Linked DNA regions of Homo sapiens: region 2 is linked to region 1. Evidence: fine-mapped expression QTL. A gene starts in region 1. The other region holds a variant in brackets. All regions are shown on one strand. Distances are from middle to middle.

The links. PIP is the estimated chance that this variant, and not a neighbour inherited with it, causes the effect.
Region 2: its variant is fine-mapped to the expression of MYO16-AS1 in esophagus muscle (GTEx, PIP above 0.99). The same link has a PIP of 0.9 or more in testis.

What each region holds. Positions count from the first base shown.
Region 1 is chr13:109,163,251-109,171,250 of GRCh38, forward strand. It overlaps MYO16-AS1 (MYO16 antisense RNA 1), which reads right to left and starts at 4,053. Exons shown (of 3, transcript NR_047700.1): 1 at 3,769-4,053; 2 at 3,386-3,460; 3 at 655-841. MYO16 (myosin XVI) reads left to right here. Exons shown (of 35, transcript NM_001198950.3): 33 at 1,651-1,809.
Region 2 is chr13:109,257,936-109,274,957 of GRCh38, forward strand. LINC03061 (long intergenic non-protein coding RNA 3061) reads left to right here and starts at 7,552. Exons shown (of 2, transcript NR_185883.1): 1 at 7,552-7,732; 2 at 9,676-13,140. It overlaps LOC130494219 (a long non-coding RNA gene), which reads left to right and starts at 14,268. Exons shown (of 2, transcript NR_185888.1): 1 at 14,268-14,484. RefSeq lists enhancers at 9,336-10,294, 12,812-13,540. The variant T/C (reference allele first, on the strand shown) is at 7,572.

The sequences.
Region 1 (8,000 bases):
TGGGGTTGATGCGGGAGAGGGCTTGAGTGCACCAAAGCAAGAAAACAGGAGTCAATATGGAGAATTTGGATAAACATGCATTGCTTGTAGTGCTATTTGAGGGTATGTCTCGAGAGGCAAGAGGAGATAATGTCAAGGTAGGAGTTAAGAGGGACCAAGTCAAGACCAGCCTTGAGAGATAAGCTCTGGGGAGATGGAACCTTCCCTTCCTTCCTTCCTTCCTTCCCTCCATCCCTCCCCACTCCCTCCTTCCCTCCCTCCCTCCCACCTCCCTCCTTCCCTCCCTCCCTTTCTTTCCTTTTTTGCTTTCTTTCATTGTTTTCCTGTCTTCCTCCCTCCTTCCCTCCCTGTCTCCTTCCTACCTTCTTTCTGTAGATTGCAACCAACAGCAGTTTATCCAAAACTTTTCAGCATGGAAATGACATAATCCAATTTGTCTTTTAATGAAAAATAAAGACTGAATAATAATCAGAACATACAGGTTAAAGTTCCATTCTATCTCTTTCCAACTGCATGACTCTGAGTAACCCTAATTCCTTCTTCAGCAAAATAAGGATAACATCTCTGCCTATGGAGGTACCGGTGATTGGGATTGGGGTGGTAATACACCGTTCTGCCATATTTAAAGTATAATAAAGCAAATGATGTGTGTTGTCCCATTCAAATAATTTATTAGTCTAAATCTTTAGAAAAGCCTAACTTTAAGACAGTCAGAATCAACTGTGTCCCAACAGAAAAGAACCAAAGTCTCACGCATATCCTTGATGCTGAATCAAAAGTCTCCAATAGGTTGCAGCTTTTTTGAGGTTCCTTAGGAAGCAAGAGCCAATCCCAGGTGCACCTGTGAAGTCAGAGAAAGGGAACTTGGCAGAGGTGGTGATGGGGGGATGTCTGGCCCCTTGATGGCAGTTGTGCCTGATTTGCAAAGTCTGATTTTGTGCCTAAGGGTAATGCAGTGACCATGGGGAAACCTACCTCCATTGGACATTTTTCCAAATAGAAGCATTTGCTGTGTTTCACTTTATTAATATTACATCACTTTAAAAAGTCTTCATCAGGCCCTTCAGTGGAATTTGGACAGTGGCTTTCGTGTTCGTACCTCTCAAAACACTTAACATAGGACAAGCATTACATATTTAAGTAATTATCTTAGTGTGCAGAATGCGGAAGTCGAGTATTGAAGTTCAGTATTCCAACATGGACACTAAAAGTGTTTATAGTGATGTTGAAAATATCACTATAGTGTTTCTTATCACTCAAGTGTTTCTTATTTTTTCCAAAGCTGTAAGATTGCCTTAATTTATTTAAATGTAATCATTCAGAAAACTCCTGAAACATGAACTCATTGCTTTCTCATGACAGGCAATACTATAATGACAAGTTATTTGATCTATGACATCAAAAATTCTTTATAAATATGTTTGAATGCAACAAATTATTGTTACCACTTGACATTTTCCTTTTTGTTTGACATTGTTGTGGCAAAATTTGGTGAATATTATATAGGCTACAAATTTTATTAAAGATTATTATTATTTTAAATGTCATGAATGTTTGATTTGATGTTTTATTATTTTCTCCAAATGTTTTATTCAGTATATTCAGTACATGTTATCAGAAAATAATTATGTTTTCTAAAATTTATTTTAGGTTTTGAAACTAACATGAACATAAGTAGCCGAGATGACCCTAGTACGTCAGAAATTACTTCCGAGACTCAAGACAGAAATGCAAATAACCATGGAATTCAGTTATCTAATTCACTATCTAGTGCTATAACTGCTGAAAATGGAAATTCCATCTCAAATGGTAAGCACTTTTTAAACTCAGAAGTAAATGTACAAAAGTTTTAGGCTGTATCAACTTTCTGGGAGGAATGGATTTAAAATATGAAAATGAAGTAGGGTTAAGAACTGGAAAATAGAATATAAACCATGAAACTCCCCTGCAAGTATTATTGTCAGCATATGATTGCTTCAGTTAAAGAATTGGAATTCTATTCACTCCTTGTTGACTTTTCCGAAATTTTATGGAGTGTTAATCTAAAAGAACTGGTCCAAAATTAGTCTTATACTGAGCAGAAGAAGGCAATAGATTCTCTACCAATATTTTTAATTAAAAAATTATTCTGGAAACTAAGAAATGTGAAGGAAAATAATATTAAAGAAATGATAAGTGCCAGACTGGCTTCAGGTATTTTAAGTACATCAATGAGTGCCACATTTAGAAAGTGGCTTGATTGCAGGTACAAAAGCTGAGGATCACGCAAGTATTTTCTCTCACAAATAAAAGAAGACAAAGGCGTCTGGGAATAACTGATGGGAAGACTCAGACCAACTATTCCTGAGGGCCTCCCGCAGGGCTGGGAAAAGCATGTTTGTTTAGTCTAATTAGAGGCGTGGGAGAACCATCATGATGCTGAAATGCTGGGAAGCAGTTGAAGACCTGGGAGTGGGGTGCAAGGTGAGCCGAAGCAAGGAAGCCCACACTTGAAGCTTGGCTCATGGGGACATAAGGGTACCCACATTGTTCAGAGAAGGCAGCTAAGAAGTCAAGTTGTGCTTCTGACTGCCTTCTCAAATTACAGGGCAAGAAACTGAGTCGTGGCCCCACCAAGGCCTTGGGGTGGGGCCTTCAAGTGTTCTTCCCAAGAGTCAGAGTGAACCAGAACCAAGAACCATGTTGAGTTGCCCAGATGTAACCAGGCCTACAGGTACCTGGGAGAAACACGTGTACATTTTCCCCAAAGGGCAGTAATAGCATCCTAGGCTTCAAAACATTCATAGAAACCATTTTTCAAATGCAAAGTCCAACACAGTTAGAAATAACCAGGCATAGGAGCACACAAAATAAGATAAAAAATTAAAAGCAGAGACGGCAGCCAATTGCAATATGTCCACAGGGATTCAAAAGGTTGGAATTCAAAGACACATGCCTTAAAATAAGTATGTTTACTCAGCCCCCCACGAAATAAAACAACGAGAATTTCAGCAGAAATAGGAAACTATAAGGAAATCGTCAAATGGAAATTCTGAAATTGGAAAATGCAGTAATAAAATTGAGTACAACAGAGGATAAAGTTAAATTTAATTAGATATAGTTGTTTAAAAACAAAACAAATAAAAAATAACTGGAGAAGTGGAAGATAACTCAGAAAATCCCCAGAATGAAACAGATTGAAGCAAAAGGGAAGAATGGAAACTCCAGACAATGGTTTAGAGATATAAAGGGCAATGAGGAGGATGATTGAAGTCTTAGGGAAAGAAGAGGGAGCGCATGAGCAGAAGAAAGACTTGGTGAGAAATGTTAGAGCATCTCCCAATGCTGACGAAAGAGCACCAGGAAACAGATTTAAGTTGGCAGATTTTTATAACATTCAACATACATTCTTCACGGGATCCAGCAATCTGACTCCTCAGTATCTTCCCAAGAGAAATGACAGCAGTGTCCACACAAACACCTGTATGCAAATGCATATGGTGACATTATTCATAATCACATAAAACTGGAAATAAATTCAGTGTCTTTCAACTGATGACTGGCTTGTATTAGTGATCCATCACTGTGCAAAATATTACTCCCAAAACTTGGAGGCTTATATAAGAAATGGTTATTATTTCATAGTTTCTGTGGGCCAGGAAGCTGTGTGTGGCTTAGCAGGGTGCCTTTGGTTTAAGGTCCCCCATGAGACAGCAATCAAGCTGTCAGCCAAGACCACAGTCATCTTGAGACTTGAGTGAAGGCTGATCCATTTTCAAGGTCACTCACGTGGCTATTGGCAGGCCACAGAAGGTTCACATCCAAGTCAACTCACATGGGCAGCCTCCCAGCACAGCAGCTCTCCCCACATCCCTGAGCAAGCAATCCAAGAGAGAGCACCCCAGATGGAGGCTGCAGTCTTCACATAACCCAGTCTTGAAAATGACACCCCAGCACTCTGTCACGTTTGATTGAGTCACTAAATCCAGGCCACACTCAATGGGTGGGGAGTCCGTGAGTGCCTGGAGGTGGGCTCACCAGCATCTCACAGGCTGAACTAGCACATGGATGAAGCCTGCAATAAATAAGAGTGATCAACTATAATGAGCATCATAAAAAAAAGGGATGGCTAAAGCATTGTGTTGAGGTTAAAAAAAAAAAATCAAAAGACTAAGTGTGATCCTGCTTATGTAACATTTGGGGAAAAGCAAAGCTGGAGACAGAAAACAGCTGAGTGGTTGCTGGAGGCTGGGCGTAATGGCAGGAGATGAAGTTCAGAAGGACATGTGGTGTTATAGACAACCTGGAGTGCTCATGTCTGCAGATGCACAGATGTGTATGTCTAAAAAAGGTGAATCTCACTGTCTCTAAATTACACCATAATCAATCCAACGTTTGTAAAAATGAAACAGAAACCTTTGCAAAGCCTAAGTAGGATACATAAAACTTTCCTAGGTGTATCATAGTAAAACACCTATAAAATAAAGACCGAGAATTAATTTTAAAAGCAGTTAGAGGTAAAAATATGTACTATCTTCGAAAAGTAGCAACTGAAGTCCAAAGACAATGAAATAACATAGTTAACATGCTCAAATAAAATAACTGCCCCCCAAAAATTCCTGTAATAATGAAAGGGAGTTAAGGATATTTTTAGGAAAAAAAATAAAAATGAAAGGAATTAAACACTGACAGACTCAGAATGCTTAGAGATAAAGGAAAGAATAAAGAATAACTAAAAAGGCAGTAAAATTTGGAGGGGTAAAATAATATTTAATATTATACACTGATAAACCTACCTTGCCAGTTGTAACCTCAAAGGTAACCCCTGAAAGAATATTAGTGGGGTAGATAATATCCAAACTAGTAAAGAGAGAAAAATAAAATCATAAAAAGTCAACTCAAAAGATGCAAAAAGGGGATAAAATAGGAAAAATAGGGCAAGGAGAAAGTTCTGAGACAGTAGATATGAAAACACATGTGAAAATAAACTTTATTTAATTATAATAAACTTTAAAAGGCTTATTTAATGTAAACTTATATGAAAAATGATTAGCAGAATATTTTAAAAACTAAGTTTTCTGAAAACAGTAAAACATAAGGATTCTGAAAGAGTAAATGTAAAGGGATAGAAAAGAAAAAGATACAATGTGCAAATATTAAAAAGCAGCAAAAACAGTGCTCATATATTTGAACGTCAAAAATTACATCTCTAGGCCAGGCGCGGTGGCTCACGCCTGCAATCCCAGCACTTTGGGAGGCCGAGGCAGGCAGATCACCTGAGGTCAGGAGTTCGAGACCAGCCTGGCCAACATGGTGAAACCCCCATCTCTACTAAAAATACAAAAATCAGCTGGGCTTGGTGGTATATGCCTTTAATCCCGGCGACTCGGAAAGCTGAGGTAGGAGAATTGCTTGAACCCAGGAGGCGGAGTTTGCAGTGAGCCCTGATCGCGCCACTGCACTCCAGCCTGGGTGACAGAGCCAGACTTTGTCTAAAAAAATAAGATAAAATAAAATCTCTAAGTAATCAATGTATTCAAGAAGAAATCACAAAATAAATTAAAAAGCAAAATATTTTAACTAATGACAATGCAAATATGACAACAGAACTTTTAGGACATGTCTAATGTCTTTTGTGTATGAGTGGAAGGGGCTCGGGTACAGTGTCGGTATGGTCAATATGTGGCTGTATGGCATCGTGGCCATGGCTGGGCTTTTAGTGTCCACATCAACTGAATAGTATATATTGTCCTGATTAAGTCGTTTCATATGCTTCATTCCATCCCATCCTCCCACCTTGCCACCCTTCTGAGTCTCCAGTGTCTATTATTCCACACTCTGTGCCCAAGTGTACACGTTATTTAGCTCCCACTTATAAGTGAGAACATGTAGCATTTTTCTTTCTGTGTCTTAGTTATTTCACCTAAGATAATGGCCTCCAGTTCCATCCATGTTACTGCAAAAGATCTCTTAAGAAATGGAAATGTATGGCTTCAAACCTTTGCATCACAAGAGAACAAATACGATGAGTGTTAAAAGGGTCTAGAAATTAGAAACAGAACAAAAACTAAATACTATGAAAATGGAAGGAAAGATATGATAGTGATAATAAGAACATAAGTTATTGAAATATAAAACAAATAAAATAATGTGAAGGGATAGAAAGGAAGGAAAGAGAAAGTTGTTTATCTTTTAAAAAATTATCTTTGAAAACAATAAGATTGAAAATTTTCTTGCAAGGGGATAGAGAAATAGAGAAAATTGGCACAAATAACAGATTTTAGATTGAAAAGGGGACATCAATACAGATCTGGCTGAAATTAAAAATAGTAAGAGAATATTACAAACAGTTTTACACCAAGATAAATTTACAAATTTACATAAACAAATACATTCTTAAAAAAAAAAGAACTAACGAAAATGGACAAAAGAAGTAGGAAAGCTAAATAACACCGTAAATGTTAAATTAATGGAATTTGTAATTGAATGCCTTCCTACAAGGAAAATTCCAGAATCAGATGGTTTCTCCACTAAATGTTTCCAAAATTCTAAGGATTAAATAACTCCAATGTCACGTACACGCTTTCAGAGAATAGGAAGGAAGGAGAAAGAAAATAATATTACTCCAGCTTGCATAATTAGCCACTTAATTTATGACAAAATTGGCATGTGAGAGCACTGGGGAAGAATAATTGATTGCTATCCATGTGGAGCAAACAGTGAAACTCGACTCTGCCTAATGCTATACACACAACAATTCCTGATAGATTATAGATCTGTATGTCAAATGTCAAATCATAAAATGGATAGAAGAAACAATAGGAGAGTATCTTTCTTACTTCATAAAAGGAAAGAAGGGCTTGTTAAGCAAGACACAAAAGTTTTAACCATAAAGAAAAAAGAAAAAAAAAAACATAAATAGGGAGAAAATATTTTTAACACATTTACCCAACAAAGGCTAATATTCAACGTTTATTTAAATTAAAAACAAAAGACAGCTGAAAAGAAAATTGGACAGAATATGTGAATACCACTTAGAAAAACAATTTTAATGGAGTCCAACCTCATTAGTAACTAGAGAAATGTAACTGAAGACTCCAGGGCAATACTACTACACACACTCTAGAATTACAGACCCGCCTGAAAAGGAAGAGGTGCTCGGAGAACGGACTGCCACAAAGTGAGGATGGCAATTTCATTTGGAGGGGAAGGCCAGTAGCGATTTGGAGAGATGACTACAGGAGCTTCCGCAGAGCTGCCAGTGTTCTATTTCTTTATTTTATTTGTGTGGTTGTTACAATTCTGCAATTTAAAAAAAAAAGGAGGAAGAAAGAGATGGAGAAAGGGAACTTCTCTTCACCAAAATATTTAAGTTTTCTGTGTTTTGAGGCAAAAGGCAAAAACTACAGCTTCGGAAATGATCCTAAAAAACTTAATAATAATAATAATAAAAACGGCAAGTCATACTCTAAATATCAAAACATAACCAAAAACCAAGGAAACAAGCAGAAACCCTCTAGACCAAAATGGAGATGTTTGTGAAATAGGATCCATGAAATTAATAATATAAATTCTTTAGGAGTATCAGGGTTCTAAACTTCAGCATGTAACACATAGTGTGTACGGCCAAAGCCTGCAACACAGATTTCTGTGTTCTCCCTTAACACACTTACAATTTTTAAAATAAAGTTGGTTCTATGCTGTCATTAAGTAAAAACCACTTGAAAATCTCAAGAGTTATGCGTGCAAAAGGAAAATTATTTCAATTGGAAATTCAATCTTTCAAAGCAACTTGACACATTTATGCTGATCTACTCTTGTGAGCGCCATGAATTTCTGGGGGCCTGGAACTTTCCCCATGATTTTTAAAACATCCAGCACAATACCCTTTATACTTAGGCCCTGAGTAAGCATTTGCTGATTGAAACAATGTTGTTTGTTACGGAGGAACCAGTAAATCCCATACAGAGGGCAGAGTCAGAAAAACTGCCTCGTCAGTATTATAGAAATTGAACAAACAT
Region 2 (17,022 bases), 99 kb after region 1:
GCGCAGTGGGTCACACCTGTAACCCCAGCACTTTGGGAGGCCGAGGTGGGTGGATCATGAGGTTCAGGAGATCGAGACCAACCTGGCTAACACAGTGAAACCCCATCTCTACTAAAAATACAAAAAATTAGCCAGGCGTGGTGGCAGGCACCTGTAGTCCTGGCTACTCAGGAAGCTGAGGCAGGAGAATGGTGTGAACCCAGGAGGTGGAGCTTGCAGTGAGCCGAGATCACACCACCGCACTCCAGCCTGGGTGACAGAATGAGACTTCATCTCAAAAAAAGAAAAAAAGAAATAAGGCAGACACAAGAGCCAATAAAGAAGTGAGAAGGTGGGTTTGTAGAAATGTCAGGGAACTAGGGATGTTCTGTGTTACAGATGCCAAGAGAGGGGAAGAGTAATCATCAGCAAAGTACCTCCCAAATGGATCAAATAGGATGATCACAACTAAATTAAAATCATTAGCTTTGGTAACTAGAAAGTCACTGCTCTGTTTCTATCAACTGATTTTTTTTCTTGGTAGGGTCACATTTGCTTGCTTCCCCACATGTCTAGTAATTTTAATTGGATATTTGACATCACCACTGTTGTTCAATGTCTGGATTCCTGTCTTCCTTTAAAATACTCTGTACTTTGTTCTGGAAGGAGATTAATCTCTTTGAGGATGTTTGACCTTTACAGTCTTTCTTAGGATGTTTTTAAGCTTTGTTAGAGAAGGTTTAGAATAGCTTTTGCTCTGGGGCTAGGTGAGCCCTGCACTTAAGATGTGGCCTTTGTGGAGCCTCTACTGAATGCCCTGGTCTTTCCATTCAGGCTAGCTGGAGCCCAAATGTCTCCCAGCTCTACATGAGCTCCAGTGGTTTGTGTTTGTAGTTCCATGACAGTTATCTTTTCTTGATAGTTGTTCTGTACCCTACACAAGTTCAGGTTACTATTCAGACAAAGACTCAGGGAAAACTCTGAGTAGATTCTGAAGCTCCTTCTCTGCTTGGCCCTTCCTCTCTAGTACCCTGCCCCAAAAATTTCAACTGTGCATTTCCTGTGCAAGTACCTTTATTCTCAGTCTTTCTGAACTTTGATCTCTATCACCTCATCTCAGTGAGACTCCAAGTTCTGCTTAGGCTGCCTCTTCAGGGGCCTTGGTCCAGAAGCACTATCCAGGCAGAAAGCCAAGGCATCCAGGGCCCACCACATTAGTTTTTTCCTGCCATGGATTATATTCCTATGCTGCCTTTTGTTTAATGTCTAAAAACCATTTCTTTTTCAGTTTCTCTAGCTCTTTATGTCCGGAGGACTAGTTCAGTACCAGTTACTACATTTTAGCCAGAACCAGAAGCCCACTGGAGATCTTAGGAAAAGAATTTTGAGTGGATTTAGGCATAAATGAAAGAAAGTAATGAGCCAGCACATATAAGCAACTCTTCAACAAAGGGACAGAGGTAGACTGAACAGTGACTTGTGCAGAGATCTTCATCCAAATTATTGCTATTTTGTTATTTATGACTTAATCTCAATAGTATTTCTTAATGTTTGACTCTATGTGGCTAATAACTGTGTCTACTTTGGTTAGTCTTGTATCTTCAGTTAACACAATTCCCATAACACTGGCCCATAACTGGGACTTAAAAATACTTAAAAAAATACTTGCTGAATAAATAAATAAATAACAAATAAATGAATGAATGACTGGAAGAACCAGTCTCCATTTTCCAAATGCTTAAAAGTGTAATGTTATGTGAATATAACACTTGTATGTCATATTACCTGGAAATTTTATTTCTTTATCAAGCCTCCTTTAAAAACAATTTACTTTGTTTTCTAGTGGAATGTGTCCTACTTGAATCTAGAACATGACCCTTTTGCGAAATTGGTTGTCATTTTGTGAACTTTGAGGAATGCCAACCAGGAAGGAACAGTTTGCATTATGAGAAATTTGAGTAGGTACACCAATCAGATGACAGCCATACTTCAGAAACACATCTTAAAATAAATGAATAGCTCTACCTGGCCAAACATAACCTCAACAAATGACTGTTCCAGGCATCTTAACAACATACATGAGAAAAAATGAATTCAGACTTAGCATACAAAATAACTAAAATGTTTTTACCTGCAAGACATATTTTGTAAGTGAAGGCAAGTAGCTTTTGCCTTTACTGGCTGATACCAGATTACTAATTAATCACGTGAGATATTGCTAGATCAGACTTCTAACGAGTGACTTTCAGAGTCTGACGATGAAAAAGTTAAAATCTTTAGTGATGCTTTCTGCACGTATTGTCTTCTTCTCAAGAGACAATTGAGGATTTATAGGTTCTGTTAGAATGAGAAGTTTTCTCAATTCAACATATTGTGATACTTATTCTCCCTAATTTTGTGATGCCATATTCCTCCTCTACACTAGCAAAATAAGAGGAAACTAAAGCAAAATAGCTGGAGAAAAACAGACAATCTCATACATTGATAGAAATACAAAATGACCTTATCTTATAAAAAGGGAATTTGGAAATGTGTAACAGGATGACTTAAGCATTTATCTTTGACCCAGCAATCTCATTTCCAGAGATCTATCCTAAAAGTACATGGCAAAAATATGAAAAATAGAGGTGTGCAACTATATTCCTTGCAGCATTATGACTAATAGAAAGGGTGCAAGAACAATGTTTTCCAATATTTCAATAAACTATGCTATGTCCTCACAACAGAGTACTATAGAGCTGTACAAATAAAAGATGAATACTTCTAGAAGCTTCAATGTGTAGAATATTTAACTAAGAAGAGTATGTGTGTATATATACATATATATCTACAGAAAACATGTTTTATTTTAATAACTTAAAAAATTTGTACCTACAGAGGGTTAAATACATACAAGAGAAAGGAATAGAAGCAAGTCTTCCCTGAGTATACATTGTTTTGTACATTTGACAAATAACTCATGTAAATGCTTAACATTATATTAAATAAAATTAAAATTACAAAGGCCATTCTTAAAATCAAAAGCAAATAAAAAATAATGAACCTGTTTATCAGGTTAGTAGCATATTCACAAAAAGACAAAAATTTCAAGTAACTTTAAAGAATATTGATTTACTATACCCCCTATTGGGTTAGATACTAAAGACCTGAAGAACAATCTTCAACTCTTTTCAATAATCACATTATTTGTGACAGAAGTGATATAACTATTCTGAGAATATGTCATTATTTTCTGTATGTAATGAGTAATTATCGTGAGATAAATCAAATGAACTATTATCATTGAGGATTGGCGTTTTCACCATGAAAGGAATGAGATACGGATGTAAGGTTGATGAGATGAATAATAACCTGTAGTCTTAAATTGTATTTAAAATTAGTAATCAATATGAATTCACATTGTATATCATCTTTATGAATACATTGTGTGTGGGCATGTGCGTGTGTGTTTCTTAGCTTTGTCCTCTAGAAAAGTCTAGAAACAGTGACTAACTCGGTAGCAATTAGCACCTCTAGCACAAAGATCATGGTCTCTAAATATGATTTCCCACTGCAAGGAACCAGAATTCCTTGGTGAAATAATTGCTTTCAGCTTGAGAAAGAAAATGTTAAAGATGAGTCTGAAATGTCTGTTCTTCCCAGACAGTAAGAAGCTAACAAAGTCTATTGAAATCGTGAGCAAATAATTCAACAGCCACATTCAAGAGTTTTTCATTAGCCAATGGAGGGCAAATTTGGCCACAAATAAGATTAACAAATGAAATAAATTACATTAAGCATGTAAATTCATGTGTTTATAATAATACTGTAATAGTCTGTTCTCATGCTCCTAATAAAGACATACCCAAGATGAGGTTATTTATAAAGAAGAGAGGTTTAATGGACTCACAGTTGCACATGGCTGAGAAGGCCTCACAATCATGGCAGAAGGCAAAGGAGAAGCAAAGGCACGTCTTACCTGGTGGCAGGCAAGAGGGCATGTGCAGGGGAACTCCCCTTTATAAAACCATCAGATGTCATGAGACTTACTATCACTAGAAGAGCATGGGAAAAACTTGCCCCCAAGATTCAATTAACTCCCACAAGGTCACTCCCACAATGTGTGGGGATTATTATAATTCAAGATAAGATTTGGTTGGTGACACAGAGCCAAACCATATCAAATACTTAAGTCAAATTTCAGTGATCATCTTCAGAGAGTGAAAGGAAAACAATTTATTGTTTTGAAAACTAGTGGATAAGAGGATATAACCAAGAACTTACATTGCTTTTCCTATAATAATTCTACCTCAAAGTAAACATATAATATACAATGGAAAGGCATTGTTTGTAGATACACTACAGACAATAAATTTAAAAGAAATGATCACATTAAGACATCACCATTTTGTAACTCTCTTTTTTTTATGTATTTAGTCAGATTAGTCATCTACCTTTACAAAGAAAAGAGATGGCTAGACAATGTACACCTCCTAATAACAAATATAATTCTGCCTACAAGTATTTTTGAATACAGAGTAAAATACAGTAAATAAAACCCAAATCCTACTAAAAGTTTAGGTTTACTAGTTTATAAGAAATTCAGGTTTCAAAGGAATTACACAACACAATCTGGACTGTAAAAATTTCTTTAGGACAAACAACCTGTTTCTTCGACCAATAAAATGCAAGGAAAAAGCCAACAAGTTCTATATCTTAAAAGAGGTTTAGGCCAGGCACGGTGGCTCATGCCTGTAATCACAGCACTTTGGGAGGCAGAGGCAGGTGGATCACAAGTTCAGGAGATCGAGACCATCCTGGCTAACATGGTGAAAACTCATCTCTACTAAAAATACAAAAAATTAGCCAGGTGTGGTGGCAGGCACCTGTAGTCCCAGCTACTTGGGAGGCTGAGGCAGGAGAATGGTGTGAACCCGGGAGGTGGAGCTTGCAGTGAGCCAAGATCGCGCCACTGCACTCCAGCCTGGGCAACAGAGCGAGACTCCATCTCAAAAAAAAAAAAAAAAAAGAGGTTTAAAAGATAAATCAATCAACTGCAAGGTATAGATCTCTTTGGGACTTCTGAGTCAGGCAAATTGTAAAAGAAGAAAAGAGAATCAGGAAAATTAGAACACTTAGTAGATATGTAATAGTATTAAGGGGCTGGGCTTAGTGGTTCATGCCTGTAATCGCAGCATTTTGGGAGGCCAAGGCAGGCGGATCACTTGAGGTCAGGAGTTCAAAACCAGCCTGAGCAACATAGTGAAACCCCATTTCTACCAAAAATACAAAAATTAGCCAACCGTGTGGTGCACACCTATAATCCTATCTACTTGGGAGGCTGAGACAGGAGAATCACTTGAACCTGGGAAGCAGAGGTTGCAGTGAGCCAAGAGTGCCCCCACTGCACTCTAACTTGGGCAACAAAGCAAGACTTCAACTTTAAAAAAAAATAGTATTAAGTAATAATTTTTTTTTTTTTTTTGAGACAGAGTCTTGCACTGTCGCCCAGACTGTCATGCAGTGGCAAGATCTCAGCTCACTGCAACCTCTGCCTTCCTGGTCCAAGCGATTCTCTTGCCTCAGCCTCCCTAGTAACGGGAATTACAGGCACCCACCACCACACCTGGCTAATTTTTTGTATTTTTAGTAGAGTGGGGTATCATTATGTTGGCCAGGCTGGTCTCAAATGCCTGACCTCATGATCCACCTGCCTTGGCCTCCCAAAGTGCTGGGATTACAGGCATGAGCCACTGTGCCCTGCCTAAGGAATAATTTTTAATTTTTAAGTATGATAATCATATGGAAATTAACCTTTTGAAAGAGGTCTAAACTTTCAGAGATGTATATTGAAATATTTATGGAGGAAATGATATGATGTCTGGGATTTGCTTCAAAATATTTGGTGAGGGACAGGGTGCAAGATAGGATTATAGAGGACGCAAGACTTGAACTTTCACCCTATTTGGTTGTACTTTCTGAAGTTCTATGGACTAGATAGTCACACAGGGGTTAAGCTGTGTGTTGTGGCTCATGCCTGTAATCCCAGATAAAGGAACAGAAAGGCCTATATGGAAACATTTGAACACCTAGTCAGGCTAATAATTTAGTTCCTCAGAATAAATATATTTGTGAAATGTATATTAAGAGAAGCTAAGCACTGAACAGGGAAGAACAGAATGGAGGAATTAAAAGACCACCGAGTCAGTGCTTTGATCACCTTATTGTCCTAAACCCTTGATATCCCCACACTCATATGCCCACTCAGCTGAATAAAGCCCATGAAGTTACCAGAATATTTAACTATTATATATTATTTCCCAAGCGTTCCCCTTGAAGGAATCACTCCCAGAACCAACCAAGGGGCTTATCAAGATATAATTCCCAATCATGTACACTAAGTCATCTTTCAAAGATAACTTGTGGAGAATACAATTTCTTCATCTAATCCAGGGGGCTTTGGCATTTCTCACCAACTCCCCTCACTGGCAACTGCCTCCCTTCACATGGCTTCAGAGAATTTTCCTGCTAACAGAGATTGCTCAGGAAATAGCTATAAACACCTATTATCTCCCTTCCCAGAGCTTTCTTTAACAATAAGACCCTTCCCTTGGCCATCATTTCCATCATTATTTTGACTTCTCCCTTGTCCCTTAAGTCCAATTAGCTGATTGGAAACCTTCCCACATAATCTGCCATTCTTGCTTCCTTTCCATTCCCAATGCCACTGGATTTGGCTGGACCCCATAGTGAGCGAGGAAGTAAAAAGAGAATAGCTAGGCAGATAGCTAGGTCAAAATTCCTCAGTAGAACTTCCTTTCTCACAAAAAGCAGCCCAAGAAAACACGTGTCTCCTAACAAAGAGCAGCCTGGAAGATTGTGCTGCAAACATAGATAAGGAAGCTGGAAGCTTGCAGCTGGGAGCTGCCGCACTAGAAAGGGGTACCTGGGGCCAGTCATGTGCACCATGAGGGCTCCGCCTCCCACTTTTTTTTTTCTTTTTCTTTTTTTTGCACCTGCACAGTAGGAAAGCAACATGGAGTAGCTCAGGCAAAGGACCCGCCTCCATAATAAAAGGCTGGGATGGGGGCTGCCAGAGATTCGCACTCTATGCTGATGGTACACCTGGTCTTAACTGTTTTTTCACACCCTATGTAGGTAAAATACTGCCTCCCCACTAGGTCACTTATAAAAACTGTCAGGCCTCTGAGCCCAAGCCAAGCCATCGCATCCCCTGTGACTTGCACGTATACGCCCAGATGGCCTGAAGTAACTGAAGAATCACAAAAGAACTGAAAAGGCCCTGCCCCGCCTTAACTGATGACATTCCACCATGGTGATTTGTTCTTGCCCCACCTTAACTGAGTGATTAACCCTGTGAATTTCCTTCTCCTGGCTCAGCAGCTCCCCCACTGAGCACCTTGTGACCCCCGCCCCTGCCCACCAGAGAACAACCCCCTTTGACTGTAATTTTCCATTACCTTCCCAAATCCTATAAAACGGCCCCACCCCATCTCCCTTCGCTGACTCTCTTTTCGGACTCAGCCCGCCTGCCCCCAGGTGAAATAAACAGCCATGTTGCTCACACAAAGCCTGTTTGGTGTCTCTTCACA[T/C]GGACTCGAGTGAACTTTGATGCCGTGGCTCGGATCGGGGGACCTCCCTTAGGAGATCAATCCCCCGTCCTCCTGCTCTTTGCTCCATGAGAAAGATCCACCTACGACCTTAGGTCCTCAGACCAACCAGCCCAAGAAACATCTCACCAATTTTAAATCCAGTAAGCCGCCTCTTTTTACTCTCTTCTCCAACCTCCCTCACTATCCCTCAACCTCTTTCTCCTTTCAATCTTGGCGCCACACTTCAATCTCTCCCTTCTCTTAGTTTCAATTCCTTTCATTTTCTGGTAGAGACAAAGGAGACACGTTTTATCTGTGGACCCAAAACTCCAGCGCTGGTCACGGACTGGGAAGGCAGCCTTCCCTTGCTGTTTAATCATTGCAGGGACACCTCTCTGATTATTCACCCACGTTTCAAGGGTGTCAGACCATGCAGGGATGCCTGCCTTGGTCCTTCACCCTTAGCGGCAAGTCCCGCTTTTCTGGGGAAGGGGAAAGTACCCCAACCCCTTCTCTCTGTGTCTCTACCCGTTCTCTGCTTTTCTGGGGAAGGGGCAAGTACCCCAACCCCTTCTCTCTGTGTCTCTACCCCTTCCCTGCTTTTCTGGGGAAGGGGCAAGTACCCCAACCCCTTCTCTTCTTGTCTCTACCCCTTCTCTGATTTTCTGGGGCAGGGGCAAGAACCCCTCAACCCCTTCTCCTTCACCCTTAGTGGCAAGTCCCACTTTTCTGGGGGAGGGGAAAGTACCCCTCAACCCCTTCTCCTTCACCCTTAGTGGCAAGTCCCGCTTTTCTAGGGGGCAAGAACCCCCAATCCCTTATTTCCACACCCCGACCTCTTATTTCTGTGACCCAATCCCTTATTTCCACACCCCAACCTCTTATCTCTGTGCCCCAATCCCTTATTTCCATGCCCCAACCCCCCTTCCCACTTTTCTAGGGGGCAAGAACCCCCAATCCCTTATTTCCACACCCTGACCTCTTATCTCTGTGCCCCAATCCCTTATTTCTGTGCCCCAACCCTTTCTCTGCTTTTCTGGAGGGCAAGAAACCCCCACCCCTTCTCCGTGTCTCTACTCTTTTCTCTGGGCTTGCCTCCTTCACTATGGGCAAGCTTCCACCTTCCATTCCTCCTTCTTCTCCCTTAGCCTGTATTCTTAAGAACTTAAAACCTCTTCAACTCTCACCTGACCTAAAATCTAAGTGTCTCATTTTCTTCTGCAATGCCTCTTGACCCCAATACAAACTCTACAGTAGTTCCAAATAGCCGGAAAACGGCACTTTCAATTTTTCCATCCTACAAGATCTAAATAATTCTTGTCATAAAATGGGCAAATGGTCTGAGGTGCCTGACATCCAGGCATTCTTTTACACATCAGTCCCTTCCTAGTCTCTGTGCCCAGTGCAACTCATTCTGAATCTTCCTTCTTTCCCTCCCGCCTGTCCCCTCAGTCCCAACCCCAAGCGTCACTGAGTCTTTCTAATCTTCCTTTTCTACAGACCCATCTGACCTCTCCCCTCCTTGCCAGGCCAAGCTAGGTCCCAATTCTTCCTCAGCCTCCGCTCCTCCACCCTGTAATCTTTTTATCGCCTCCCCTCCTCACACCTGGTCTGGCTTACAGTTTCGTTCTGTGACTAGCCCTCCCCCACCTGCCCAGCAATTTACTCTTAAAAAGGTGGCTGGAGCCAAAGGCATAGTCAAGGTTAATGCTCCTTTTTCTTTATCCCAAATCAGAAGCGTTTAGGCTCTTTTTCATCAAATATAAAAACCCAGCCCAGTTCATGTCTCGTTCGGCAGCAACCCTGAGATGCTTTACAGCCCTAGACCCTAAAAGGTCAAAAGGCCATCTTATTCTCAATACACATTTTATTACCCAATCTGCTCCCGACATTAAATAAAACTCCAAAAATTAGAATCTGGCCCTCAAACCCCACAACAGGACTTAATTAACCTCACCTTCAAGGTGTACAATAATAAAAAAAAGGAAGTTGCAATTCCTTGCCTCCACTGTGAGACAAACCCCAGCCACATCTCCAGCACACAACAACTTCCAAATGCCTGAACCGCAGTGGCCAGACATTCCTCCAGAACCTCCTCCCCCAGGAGCTTGCTGCAAGTGCCAGAAATCTGACCACCAGGGCAAGGAATGCCTGCAGCCCAGGGATTCCTCCTAAGCCATGTCCCATCTGTGCGGGACCCCACTGGAAATCGGACTGTTCAACTCACCTGGCAGCCACTCCCAGCGCCCCTGGAACTCTGGCCCAAGGCTCTCTGACTGACTCCTTCTTGGCTTAGTGGCTGAAGACTGACGCTGCCTGATCGCCTCAGAAGCCCTGTAGACCACCATGGACACCGAGCTTTAGGTAACTCTCACAGTGGAGGGTAAGTCTGTCCCCTTCTTAATCAATATGGAGGCTACCCACTCCACATTACCTTCTTTTCAAGGGCCTGTTTCCCTTGCCTCCATAACTGTTGTGGGTATTGACAGCCAGGCTTCTAAACCTCTTAAAACTCCCCAACTCTGGTGCCAACTTGAACAACACTCTTTTATGCACTCTTTTTTAGTTATCTCCACCTGCCCAGTTCCCTTATCAGGCCGAGATATTTTAACCAAATTATCTGCTTCCCTGACTATTCCTGGACTACAGCTGCATCTCATTGCTGCCCTTCTTCCCAATCCAAAGCCTCCTTTGCGTCCTCCTCTTGTATTCCCCCACCTTAACCCACAAGTATAAGATACCTCTACTCCCTCCTTGGCGACCGATCATGCACCCCTTACCATCTCATTAAAACCTAATCACGCTTACCCGACTCAATGCCAATATCCCATCCCACAGCATGCTTTGAAAGGATTAAAGCCTGTTATCACTCACCTGCTACAGCATGGCCTTTTAAAGCCTATAAACTCTCCTTACAATTCCCCCGTTTTACCTGTCCTAAAACCAGACAAGGCTTACAACTTAGTTCAGAATCTGTGCCTTATCAACCAAATTGTTTTGCCTATCCACCCCGTGGTGCCAAACCCATATACTCTCCTATCCTCAATACCTCCCTCTACTACCCATTATTCTGTTCTGGATCTCAAACATGCTTTCTTTACTATTCCTTTGCACTCTTCATCTCAGCCTCTCTTTGCCTTCACTTAGACTGACCCTGACACCCATTAGGCTCAGCAGCTTACCTGGGCTGTGCTGCCGCAAGGTTCCAGGGACAGCCCTCATTACTTCAGCCAAGCTCTTTCTCATGATCTACTTTCTTTCCACCCCTCCACTTCTCACCTTATTCAATATATTGATGACCTTCTTCTTTGTAGCCCCTCCTTTGAATCTTCTCAACAAGACATACTTCTGCTCCTTCAGCATTTATTCTCCAAAGGATATCGGGTATCCCCCTCCAAAGCTCAAATTTCTTCTCCATCCGTTACCTACCTCGGCATAATTCTTCACAAAAACACAGGTGCTCTCCCTGCTGATGGTGTCTGATTAATCTCCCAAACCTCAATCCCTTACAAAACAACAACTCCTTTCCTTCCTAGGCATGGTTAGTGCGGTCAGAATTCTTACACAAGAGCCAGGACCCCACCCTGTAGCCTTTCTGTCCAAACAACTTGACCTTACTGTTTTAGCCTAGCCCTCATGTCTGCATGCAGCAGCTGCCGCTGCTTTAATAATTTTAGAGGCCCTAAAAATCACAAACTATGTTCAACTCACTCTCTACATTTCTCATAACTTCCAAAATCTATTTTCTTCCTCATACCTGACGCATATACTTTCTGCTCCCCGGCTCCTTCAGCTGTACTCATTCTTTGTTAAGTCCCACAATTACCATTGTTCCTGGCCCAGACTTCAATCTGGCCTCCCACATTATTCCTGATACCACACCTGATCCCCATGACTGCATCTCTCTGATCCACCTGACATTCACCCCATTTCCCCATATTACAAGCCACTAGCCCATCTCTTAGAACCTCTCATTTCCTTTCCATTGTAGAAATCTATCCTCAAGGAAATAACTTCTCAGTGTTCCATCTGCTATTCTATCTGCTATTCTGCTACTCCTCAAGGATCATTCAGGCCCCTCCCTTCCCTACACATCAAGCTCGAGGATTTGCCCCCGCCCAGGACTGGCAAATTAGCTTTACTCCACATGCCCCGAGTCACAAAAACTAAAATACCTCTTAGTCTAAGTAGACATTTTCACTAGATAGGTAGAGGCCTTTCCTACAGGGTCTGAGAAGGCCACCGCAGTCATTTCTTCCCTTCTGTCAGACATAATTCCTCAGTTTAGCCTTCCCACCTCTATACAGTCTGATAACAGACCAGGCTTTATTAGTCAAATTAGCCAAGCAGTTTTTCAGTTTATATCCCTTATAGTCCTCTGTCTTCAAGAAAAGTAGAACGGACTAAAGGTCTTTTAAAAACACACCTCACCAAGCTCAGCCACCAACTTAAAAAGAACTGGACAATACTTTTACCACTTTCCCTTCTCAGAAGTCAGACCTGTCCTCAGAATGCTACAAGGTACAGTCCATTTAAGCTCCTTTTTATTAGGCCCCAGTCTCATCCCAGACACCAGACCAACTTAGACTGTGCCCCCAAAAAAACTTGTCATCCCTACTATTTTCCGTCTAGTCATACTCCTATTCTCCGTTCTCAACTACTCATACATGCCCTGCTCTTGTTTACACTGCCAGTTTACACTGTTTCTCCAAGCCATCATGGCTGATATCTCCTCATGCTATCCCCAAACTGCCACTCTTAACTCTTGAAGTAAATAAATAATCTTCGCTGGAAGGACTATGCTGAACCTCCTTAGGCATTCTCTAATTAGATGTCCTAGATCCTCCCAATTCTTAGTCCTTTTATACCTGTTTTTCTCCTTCTCTTATTCCATTTAGTTTTTCAGTTCATACAAAACCGTATCCAGGCCATCACCAATCTTTCTGTATGACAAATGTTTCTTCTAACAACCCCCTCAATGTCACCCCTTACCACAAGACCTCCCTTCAGCTTAATCTCTCCCACTCTAGGTTCCCACGCCGCCCCTAATCCCGCTTGAAGCAGCCCTGAGAAACATCGCCCATTCTCTCTCCATACCACCCCCCAAAAATTTTCACCGCCCCAACACTTCAACACAATTTTGTTTTATTTTTCTTATTAATATAAGAAGGCAGGAATGTCAGGCCTCTGAGCCCAAGCCAAGCCATCGCATCCCCTGTGACTTGCACGTATACGCCCAGATGGCCTGAAGTAACTGAAGAATCACAAAAGAACTGAAAAGGCCCTGCCCCGCCTTAACTGATGACATTCCACCATGGTGATTTGTTCTTGCCCCACCTTAACTGAGTGATTAACCCTGTGAATTTCCTTCTCCTGGCTCAGAAGCTCCCCCACTGAGCACCTTGTGACCCCCGCCCCTGCCCACCAGAGAACAACCCCCTTTGACTGTAATTTTCCATTACCTTCCCAAATCCTATAAAACGGCCCCACCCCTATCTCCCTTCGCTGACTCTCTTTTCGGACTCAGCCCGCCTGCCCCCAGGTGAAATAAACAGCCATGTTGCTCACACAAAGCCTGTTTGGTGTCTCTTCACACGGACGCGCATGAAAAAAACCCTTTCATTTTACTGTGGGACGGCAACCCTTTCTGGGACCCCTCTCTGCAGCAGAGAACTGTTCTCTTTCTTTCACCTGTTAAACTTCTGCTTCTGCTCTGACCTCGTCCTTGGTGTGTCTGCATCGTCGATTTCCTCAGCTGTGAGACCAACGACTTGGGCACCCACCCAGGCAACAAGGCCTTTTCAGTAAGGGAAGTGGTAAAATGTTTTCAATCCCTGTTGCCAAAAATCGGCCTAAGGCTTCCCAAAAAAAGTAACCCAAAGCAGACATGGCAAATATTTGCTACATTTGATAATAAGCCAATAAATTATCTGCTAATAAGTGACTGAAATATTTAGCACACATCTGCCTTATTCTGATGACTGATCACATTTCTAGCTCCCCTGTGGACTAAAACAATATGCTTTCCTTCTCTACACAAGCAATGCTTTCTGCAGAGACACAAACTTTACATCTGAATACAAATGCAGCACGTTTTAATTCTGCCTCTCATTCTCCAGCAAAATCATGGGGAAGAAGGAAAACATCCTTAGTCAAAAGGGGTACAGGGACTTAGAACCTCACCATGCTGCAGTCACACAGGCAATAGAGAAAGATGGCGGTGGTTCCCTGGGGCAGTTCCCCTCTCAAGCAAGGAGACAGGGGCAGCACTCCTACCATCTCCCCAGGGATATAGGAGTTAAGAAGGAATTGCTTAGGCAGATAGCAAGGGCATGGGAGTCCTGGGTAAGGCTTTTCTTTTTAATGAAAAGCAGCCCCAAGTCATTTTCTAACAAAGAGCAGCCTGCAAGCTGGGAGCTTGCATAGGTGAATGCCAGCAGGAACTAAGGACTAGACATTTTCAAACTGGTGGCTCCATCTTCCCTTCCCTGCCAGCCAAGTGTATTGTAAGGAGCAGAGAAGATGGCTCTGATCAACTGGAAAGCCTATTTGCATAATTAGATTAGGGTGGGGCAACCAGCCTTCCCCCGCACACTATGTAGACGTCATACCTGATGGAACCAGTCTGTGAGCCCTATGTAAATCAGACACCGCCTTCTCCAACTTATTATATCTGTTTTGGTCCACTGCCTCCCCACTTTTCAGATGTCTCTCTCTCTCTCTCTCTCTAAGAGCTGCTCTCCTCTCTCCTTTCTTCTATCTATTAAATTTTCCACTCCCTAACCCACCCACATGTGATTGTGTCCTGAATTCTTGGTGTGTGACGATGAACCCCAGGGTGTATACCCCAGACAGCACAGCCACTTCACCAGCAGGGACAGCAGCTGTCACATGAACTGGAGATGAACTGGAGGTGAGTCTGATGTCTCGGAATTTTGAGGAAAGTGGGTAGAAAGTTGCCAAGCAAGCTGAAGAGACAAGCAAAAGGGATCATATTCCAGAAGAATTCTTAGCAAGACCACAGTCAGAACTTCAATCAAGGTGATTGATTGGTCTGAAAGGGGGAATAGAATGTAAATAAAATACAACCATGAGAAACCACATGTATGTTGTTGAACCTTATCTAGACACTAACTGTGAAAAAGCCAGCTTGGATTATTGATGAACGACATTCAGAAAACCACAATTTTGCCATGCTTATTTAGAGAACAGAGACAGTGGTATTATCAGCCTATAGCTCAATTGTAAAATTGGGATGACTAGATGTCCCGAGACTATTCTGTTCCTCGGCCCTCTCGACACTCACCTAAGAAGCTTCCAAATTTACCACTTCTCAGTCATTGTAAGGATGCTGCATGTCATAAGGATGATTATGGAAGATTATGGGCATGTTCTACATAGAGAACAAGAAAAGTCACAATATTTTCTTTTATAAATTTATATTTTGGAATTTATATTAGTTCCCCTAACTCTAAATAACCATGGGAATATTGACAAATTTGATTTTCCAGAACTTTAAAGCTGAGGCTAGACACTAACCACAGTGACTTTATCTATGTAGTAGCACACTCTACCAGCTGGGATGTCTGGATAACAAGTTCCCCAGATTGCAGCCTCCCTCCAGCACCAAGTAGGATTACGAGTCTGTTTGGTTTCATTTTAGCTATGTAGATTTGTCAAATTTTGTCACCTCTGGACTTCAGTTTTCTCATATGTAAAATGATGCATTGGCCTGAATGTTTTCGGAGAACCTTCAATCTCTGTGAGTCTCTTCACTGAAAAAATTGTTGACTTTCTTTTTTTTATTGTTCTGTTTTTCTTTTCTATGTCAAAAAAGCACTATGGTAAAAGTCTTTCAGTAAAACTTGAACCTTGGGGCTTGTTCCTGAGTTTGACATGTTAAACAAATGAAAGAACTGTTTTCAACTGATTAGTCATATCCTTCAATTCCTACGGGAATATGGGTTCGTTGTGCATGAGAAAGTCAGCCAACTTTGGCATGAAGATGTCTTTCAGGTAGGTAGGCCACCTGTGATGAAGTGAATCATTGAAGAAAGTCTATTTTCTTGTGGCATAAATACAAGCCTGAAGATTACACATAAGCTGTCATACACGTACCTCCTAAATGCAATTCCTCAGAAGTGACATGCTATCATCATTCACATTAATGTCTATTTGTGCAACTACATTGTTTAAAATAATCAACCAATTCATCACAATAGATATTTGGGAGGAGTGAGGGAGCTTTCTCTGTACTAATGAAAGAAATGACATTTCTGTTTACCATTTGTCAGTTTTAAGTAGTTAATAAATATCTGAAATGATTTTCATATTTTGATATGGTATTCACTTGTAAGGATATGCAATTTTTAAGAGTTATGGTGAGAATGTTTCTTCCATAACATTCAGCTTTGAAAAGTTTTAGGAAACTATTCATTATGTCTCAAAAGTTAAATGCACGACAAATGAAATGCCTCTTATTGGTTGCAATTTTCTAAAAGTAAGTAATGCCTATTACTTTGATATTTAACTCAAATATATTAACAATAATTGAAAGCTTTTGAGTGCTACAGGTTGATAATAAACCTGAAAGTATAGAATAATCATCTGTATTTTAAAATTTTTATTCTTAAGGCCAACAAAACAAAGTAAGAATTATGTCAGTGTTTCTAACTGTCCTACCCAGATCTAGCTCCTGACTGATAATTGTCAACAGAGTCAAACACGCCTTCCTAAGGCCAGCTCCACTTCTCCAAAGCAAGCTCCTCTCACTTTGCCACCCAGAAGCCACACTGGAACCTGGAATCTAAAGAATGTGTTTGCATTATCAAAGAACTCTCCCTCTCCTAAAGGGTCCACCCTGGGATTCCATTCTAGTGACTTGACAAAATGCTTCTAATTACTCCTTAGTTAGTTCCCATAATCCGCTTAAGGACTTGTTTACTTGTTGACAGGCAGGGTAGGAATTCAGCCTTGACAGTCTGTGTCAGTGCAACATCATAAATAAGATAAACATTATCTGAAGTGATCACAATGTTCTTGAACATCTGTGCAACATCATAAATAAGATAAACATTATCTGAAGTGATCACAATGTTCTTGAACATCTGAGCCGGACAGAATCAAGCCTGCGTCATCTTCCTTCTGATTTTCCAAATGAGCACACAGGAGAGGCCACTCTAAAGTCACCCTGGGAATGTGTCTGCCTCCAGCCCCATTCACGGCCCCTGGCACTGGCTTGTCATGAGATGGTGTTCAATGAATGCTTGTGGAATTGAATGAACACAATGTGGATTTACACCCTTTCCTGTCAAATAGCTAGTTCTAAAAAATACAGACCTGCACTTCAGCCATGCAATGCCTTTTAAGATGTTTCATACTCTGATGCAGAGGAAGATGTCTCTTGCCATTACAGAACCACACCGAGAAAGATCAAACAAAATCACACCAA